2 separate regions of the Homo sapiens genome follow, and region 1 is reported to be linked to region 2. The links are microRNA targets in miRTarBase. Many come from high-throughput screens and were not tested one by one. Region 2 holds a microRNA gene; the other region holds the end of a gene's coding sequence.

The links. The annotated mature microRNA hsa-miR-4330 reads CCUCAGAUCAGAGCCUUGC and lies in region 2 at 1,158-1,176, shown strand. An mRNA with a match to its seed (bases 2 to 7 or 8) in the 3' UTR can be bound and repressed. Matches are read on the target gene's strand: a 7mer-m8 pairs with bases 2 to 8, a 7mer-A1 pairs with bases 2 to 7 and ends in A, and an 8mer does both.
Region 1: the mRNA of LIF is a reported target of hsa-miR-4330. Seed matches in the 3' UTR shown: 7mer-m8 at 1,243-1,249, 8mer at 1,609-1,616 and 7mer-A1 at 2,237-2,243.

The regions. Positions count from the first base shown.
Region 1 is chr22:30,240,993-30,243,992 of GRCh38, reverse strand. LIF (LIF interleukin 6 family cytokine) reads left to right here. Exons shown (of 3, transcript NM_002309.5): 3 at 1-3,000. The coding sequence ends at 342. Among named protein-coding and RNA genes, the nearest start is that of LIF-AS1, 3.3 kb to the right of the region's middle. RefSeq lists an enhancer at 1,689-2,357.
Region 2 is chrX:151,167,141-151,170,316 of GRCh38, forward strand. It overlaps MIR4330 (microRNA 4330), which reads left to right and starts at 1,082; the gene lies at 1,082-1,186.

The DNA of each region.
Region 1 (3,000 bases), not on the chromosome of region 2:
CCGCCCTTCCACGCCAACGGCACGGAGAAGGCCAAGCTGGTGGAGCTGTACCGCATAGTCGTGTACCTTGGCACCTCCCTGGGCAACATCACCCGGGACCAGAAGATCCTCAACCCCAGTGCCCTCAGCCTCCACAGCAAGCTCAACGCCACCGCCGACATCCTGCGAGGCCTCCTTAGCAACGTGCTGTGCCGCCTGTGCAGCAAGTACCACGTGGGCCATGTGGACGTGACCTACGGCCCTGACACCTCGGGTAAGGATGTCTTCCAGAAGAAGAAGCTGGGCTGTCAACTCCTGGGGAAGTATAAGCAGATCATCGCCGTGTTGGCCCAGGCCTTCTAGCAGGAGGTCTTGAAGTGTGCTGTGAACCGAGGGATCTCAGGAGTTGGGTCCAGATGTGGGGGCCTGTCCAAGGGTGGCTGGGGCCCAGGGCATCGCTAAACCCAAATGGGGGCTGCTGGCAGACCCCGAGGGTGCCTGGCCAGTCCACTCCACTCTGGGCTGGGCTGTGATGAAGCTGAGCAGAGTGGAAACTTCCATAGGGAGGGAGCTAGAAGAAGGTGCCCCTTCCTCTGGGAGATTGTGGACTGGGGAGCGTGGGCTGGACTTCTGCCTCTACTTGTCCCTTTGGCCCCTTGCTCACTTTGTGCAGTGAACAAACTACACAAGTCATCTACAAGAGCCCTGACCACAGGGTGAGACAGCAGGGCCCAGGGGAGTGGACCAGCCCCCAGCAAATTATCACCATCTGTGCCTTTGCTGCCCCTTAGGTTGGGACTTAGGTGGGCCAGAGGGGCTAGGATCCCAAAGGACTCCTTGTCCCCTAGAAGTTTGATGAGTGGAAGATAGAGAGGGGCCTCTGGGATGGAAGGCTGTCTTCTTTTGAGGATGATCAGAGAACTTGGGCATAGGAACAATCTGGCAGAAGTTTCCAGAAGGAGGTCACTTGGCATTCAGGCTCTTGGGGAGGCAGAGAAGCCACCTTCAGGCCTGGGAAGGAAGACACTGGGAGGAGGAGAGGCCTGGAAAGCTTTGGTAGGTTCTTCGTTCTCTTCCCCGTGATCTTCCCTGCAGCCTGGGATGGCCAGGGTCTGATGGCTGGACCTGCAGCAGGGGTTTGTGGAGGTGGGTAGGGCAGGGGCAGGTTGCTAAGTCAGGTGCAGAGGTTCTGAGGGACCCAGGCTCTTCCTCTGGGTAAAGGTCTGTAAGAAGGGGCTGGGGTAGCTCAGAGTAGCAGCTCACATCTGAGGCCCTGGGAGGCCTTGTGAGGTCACACAGAGGTACTTGAGGGGGACTGGAGGCCGTCTCTGGTCCCCAGGGCAAGGGAACAGCAGAACTTAGGGTCAGGGTCTCAGGGAACCCTGAGCTCCAAGCGTGCTGTGCGTCTGACCTGGCATGATTTCTATTTATTATGATATCCTATTTATATTAACTTATTGGTGCTTTCAGTGGCCAAGTTAATTCCCCTTTCCCTGGTCCCTACTCAACAAAATATGATGATGGCTCCCGACACAAGCGCCAGGGCCAGGGCTTAGCAGGGCCTGGTCTGGAAGTCGACAATGTTACAAGTGGAATAAGCCTTACGGGTGAAGCTCAGAGAAGGGTCGGATCTGAGAGAATGGGGAGGCCTGAGTGGGAGTGGGGGGCCTTGCTCCACCCCCCCCCATCCCCTACTGTGACTTGCTTTAGGGTGTCAGGGTCCAGGCTGCAGGGGCTGGGCCAATTTGTGGAGAGGCCGGGTGCCTTTCTGTCTTGATTCCAGGGGGCTGGTTCACACTGTTCTTGGGCGCCCCAGCATTGTGTTGTGAGGCGCACTGTTCCTGGCAGATATTGTGCCCCCTGGAGCAGTGGGCAAGACAGTCCTTGTGGCCCACCCTGTCCTTGTTTCTGTGTCCCCATGCTGCCTCTGAAATAGCGCCCTGGAACAACCCTGCCCCTGCACCCAGCATGCTCCGACACAGCAGGGAAGCTCCTCCTGTGGCCCGGACACCCATAGACGGTGCGGGGGGCCTGGCTGGGCCAGACCCCAGGAAGGTGGGGTAGACTGGGGGGATCAGCTGCCCATTGCTCCCAAGAGGAGGAGAGGGAGGCTGCAGATGCCTGGGACTCAGACCAGGAAGCTGTGGGCCCTCCTGCTCCACCCCCATCCCACTCCCACCCATGTCTGGGCTCCCAGGCAGGGAACCCGATCTCTTCCTTTGTGCTGGGGCCAGGCGAGTGGAGAAACGCCCTCCAGTCTGAGAGCAGGGGAGGGAAGGAGGCAGCAGAGTTGGGGCAGCTGCTCAGAGCAGTGTTCTGGCTTCTTCTCAAACCCTGAGCGGGCTGCCGGCCTCCAAGTTCCTCCGACAAGATGATGGTACTAATTATGGTACTTTTCACTCACTTTGCACCTTTCCCTGTCGCTCTCTAAGCACTTTACCTGGATGGCGCGTGGGCAGTGTGCAGGCAGGTCCTGAGGCCTGGGGTTGGGGTGGAGGGTGCGGCCCGGAGTTGTCCATCTGTCCATCCCAACAGCAAGACGAGGATGTGGCTGTTGAGATGTGGGCCACACTCACCCTTGTCCAGGATGCAGGGACTGCCTTCTCCTTCCTGCTTCATCCGGCTTAGCTTGGGGCTGGCTGCATTCCCCCAGGATGGGCTTCGAGAAAGACAAACTTGTCTGGAAACCAGAGTTGCTGATTCCACCCGGGGGGCCCGGCTGACTCGCCCATCACCTCATCTCCCTGTGGACTTGGGAGCTCTGTGCCAGGCCCACCTTGCGGCCCTGGCTCTGAGTCGCTCTCCCACCCAGCCTGGACTTGGCCCCATGGGACCCATCCTCAGTGCTCCCTCCAGATCCCGTCCGGCAGCTTGGCGTCCACCCTGCACAGCATCACTGAATCACAGAGCCTTTGCGTGAAACAGCTCTGCCAGGCCGGGAGCTGGGTTTCTCTTCCCTTTTTATCTGCTGGTGTGGACCACACCTGGGCCTGGCCGGAGGAAGAGAGAGTTTACCAAGAG
Region 2 (3,176 bases):
TTGGGGAGGCTGAGGTGGGCAGATCTCGAGGTCAGGAGTTCGAGACCAGCCTAACCAACATGGTGAAACACCGTCTCTACTAAAAAAACAAAAATTAACTGGGTGTGGTGGCACACGCCTGTAATCCCAGCTGCTCTGGAGGCTGAGGCAGGAGAATCACTTGAACCCGGGAGGTGGAGGTTGCAGTGAACCAAGATGTCGCCACTGCCCTCCAGCCTGGGCGACAGAGAGAGACTCCATCTAAAAAAAAAAAAGAAAAAGAAAGAAGAAAGAAAGAAAAAGAAAGAAAGAAAGAAAAAGAAAGAGAGAAAGAAAGAGAAAGAAAGAAAGAAAGAAGCTAAGGTCATTACTACCCCTCACACATGGAGGGCAGCTGAATTCTGCCTCTCTGGAGATCCAGAAGCCTTCCTTCTCCAATGCAGTAGAATGTGACAGCAAGGAAGGAGTGAAGGAAAGGGTTTGGTGATCACCTCAAAATCCTTTCCAATCAAACTACTTGAGTTTTCTGTGAAAGCCAAAGGACATCTCCAAGTGGAAGGAAAGTCATAAGAATGTGTTTTTTTATTTTTTTGTTTGTTTTTTCATTTTAGAAAATGTAATGTGTCACAGTGATATGGTTTGACTCTGTGTCCCCACCCAAATCTCATCTTGAATTGTACTCCCATAATTCCCATGTGTTGTGGGAGGGACCTGGTGGGAGATAATTGGAATCATGGGGGCGATTTCCCCCATACTGTTCTCATGGTAGTGAATAAGTCTCACGAGATCTGATGGTTTTATCAGGGGTTTCCGCCTTTACATCTTCCTCATTTTTCTCTTCCCATTTTTCTCTTGCTGTCATCATGTGAGAAGTGGATTTCACCACCCACCATGATTCTGAGGCCTCCCCAGCCATGTGGAACTGTAAGTCCAATTAAACCTCTTTATCCTCCCAGTCTCGGGTATGTCTTCATCACACAGTGAGAACAGAAAGCAGACAGTGAGAAGCATACTGGCGACGTAAGGCAATTTTGACTAGAAAGTGGAACTTAACTATGAACTATCTGTTTCAGAGAGGATAGAAGCACCAGAACTACTAGCTAATTGTCAGCAGGCAATTATCTGAGGATGCAGGAGAGGAAGGGGGCTTCTTTTTGACGCCTACTTCATCAGCTGCTCCTCAGATCAGAGCCTTGCAGGTCAGGCCAGAGGGGAGACTCAGGAAGTGTTTTTGGTGTTTGTTCCAAATGGGGGCTCATTGTGGGCCCTGTGTCACTGGAATTACAATATCTGTTCAATCTAATTCCCTGGGGCTTTAAGTCTTACAAATTGGCGCTGGCCTCAGCAATGAAAAAAATAGGTGAAGTCTTGGAGTCTTTTCGACCCAGGCTAGTGTGGGATTGTTTCCTCATTTGCATCCACTTACAGAAAGTTCCAGTGATTTCCTTTGGTGACTCTACAGCCAAATGAATGGTCCTGCTAGCGTGTTTTATTGCAGTTTGTCCTTTTGCTTCTTTAATATTCCAGACAGACACATCTCCCCCCTGGGCCCTCCACACACTTTCCTCTCCATTCCAGTAATACTTAGCTTGAGGAGGTGGTTCCTGTACACACAATTCCCCACCTTTCACTCATGGGCCTCCCTCTGACTAGAATGGATACAGATGTAATAAGGGAGTCCCAACCCTCTGGCTTAGGTGACAAAGCTATTTCAATAAAAGTATACTTTTTTTTTCTGACTGCTCGTGTGTTATAACATCATGTGAAAATGGCTAGATAGATGTTGTCTGCATTTGGAGGTAGCTTTATAATGGTCAGACTCAGAAGATATGTTACATGGAATATACAAAATTGATTTGGGGGAGTCCTGGGAAGGACCCCCAAAAGCTAAGTCTTCCAGGGCAGCTGCAATTGAGGTTCGGAGAGAGACTCACCATACCTACAAGATGGCATGGATACAAAACACACAGTCGTTTCAAATATAAGCCCAATTCAAAACAGTATGTACATTCCTCAAATGCCAGGGGTCAATTTGCAAACTGCTACGTACAGGGGCGATTCTACAGTAGCGTACTACTCAGGCAAACAGGAGACAGGCATGTTTCTAAGAATGGGTTATGAATCTCCTGAGCAAACAGAGGAGGCTGGCTAAAGCGAGTAGGAAATATATCAAATCAGTATCCGCCAGAGGCAGATGGCAAGTTGACAGCCAGAACTGGGCCCCTCCAATCCTGAATCAATAGTTCCTGCTCCCCAGGGTTGACTGAGCCCCTTGCTCGGGGGAAGGGGAGAAAGAAAATCCCATTACCAACCAATGCCAAGTCCTCATATTTGGCTCATTTAGGGTCAGCTACAGGTGGTCCGCAGCCATAGAGCTGCCAGATAAAATACACGGCCCCTGGCTAAATTTAAATTTCTGATAAACAGTGGACAATTTTGAGTATAAGTATGTCCGAATATTGCATGGAATATACTTATACTAAGAATGTACTTGGGATTCAAATTTAACTGAGCATCCTGTATTTTTGATAAATAGGCAACCCTACTCAGGCAAGCCATCAGGATGAGTTTGGCAGCAGGAAGGTGGCCATAGTCAGGCCTCTGGTTGCCCTGTTTTCAGGGAGCTGGTCAGGTTATTATCAGGCATTGGGCTGGGAACCCCATCACCAGAACTGTGATAGAGGGTAGGGTTTAGTCTGAGGGTCAAAGCAAGATCTTATACACTAGAACAAGTTTATAAAGTCCCAGCAGGGACTAGTATATAAACCCTCAAGAGCAAACTCAGCAGGAGTCACTGGATGACAGACCTAGACATCCTTAAATTGCCAAGGGCTAGGGGCAGGGCTGAGTTAACAGCAGGATTTCTCTAGAAGGGATTCCTGGGCTGCTTGCATTAGAATCACCTGAGACACTTGGGAAACATGCAGATTCCAGGGCCCCGTACAGACCTGCCAAGTCACACTCTCTAGGGGAAGGCCTAGAAAGCTGCAATTTCTTAATACTCCTGGCTGCTCTGTCATGCACTAAATTTGAGACCCAGTGCTCTAGAGCCAGGAACCAGGTGTGGCCTGCAAATAAGCCATGAGGCACAGTGGTTAAAGCACAGATTCTGGAGCCAGACTGCCCAAGTTAGACTTCTGGCTCTACCACTTATTACCTGTGTGACCTGGGGCAAGTGACTTAACCTCTCTGGGCCT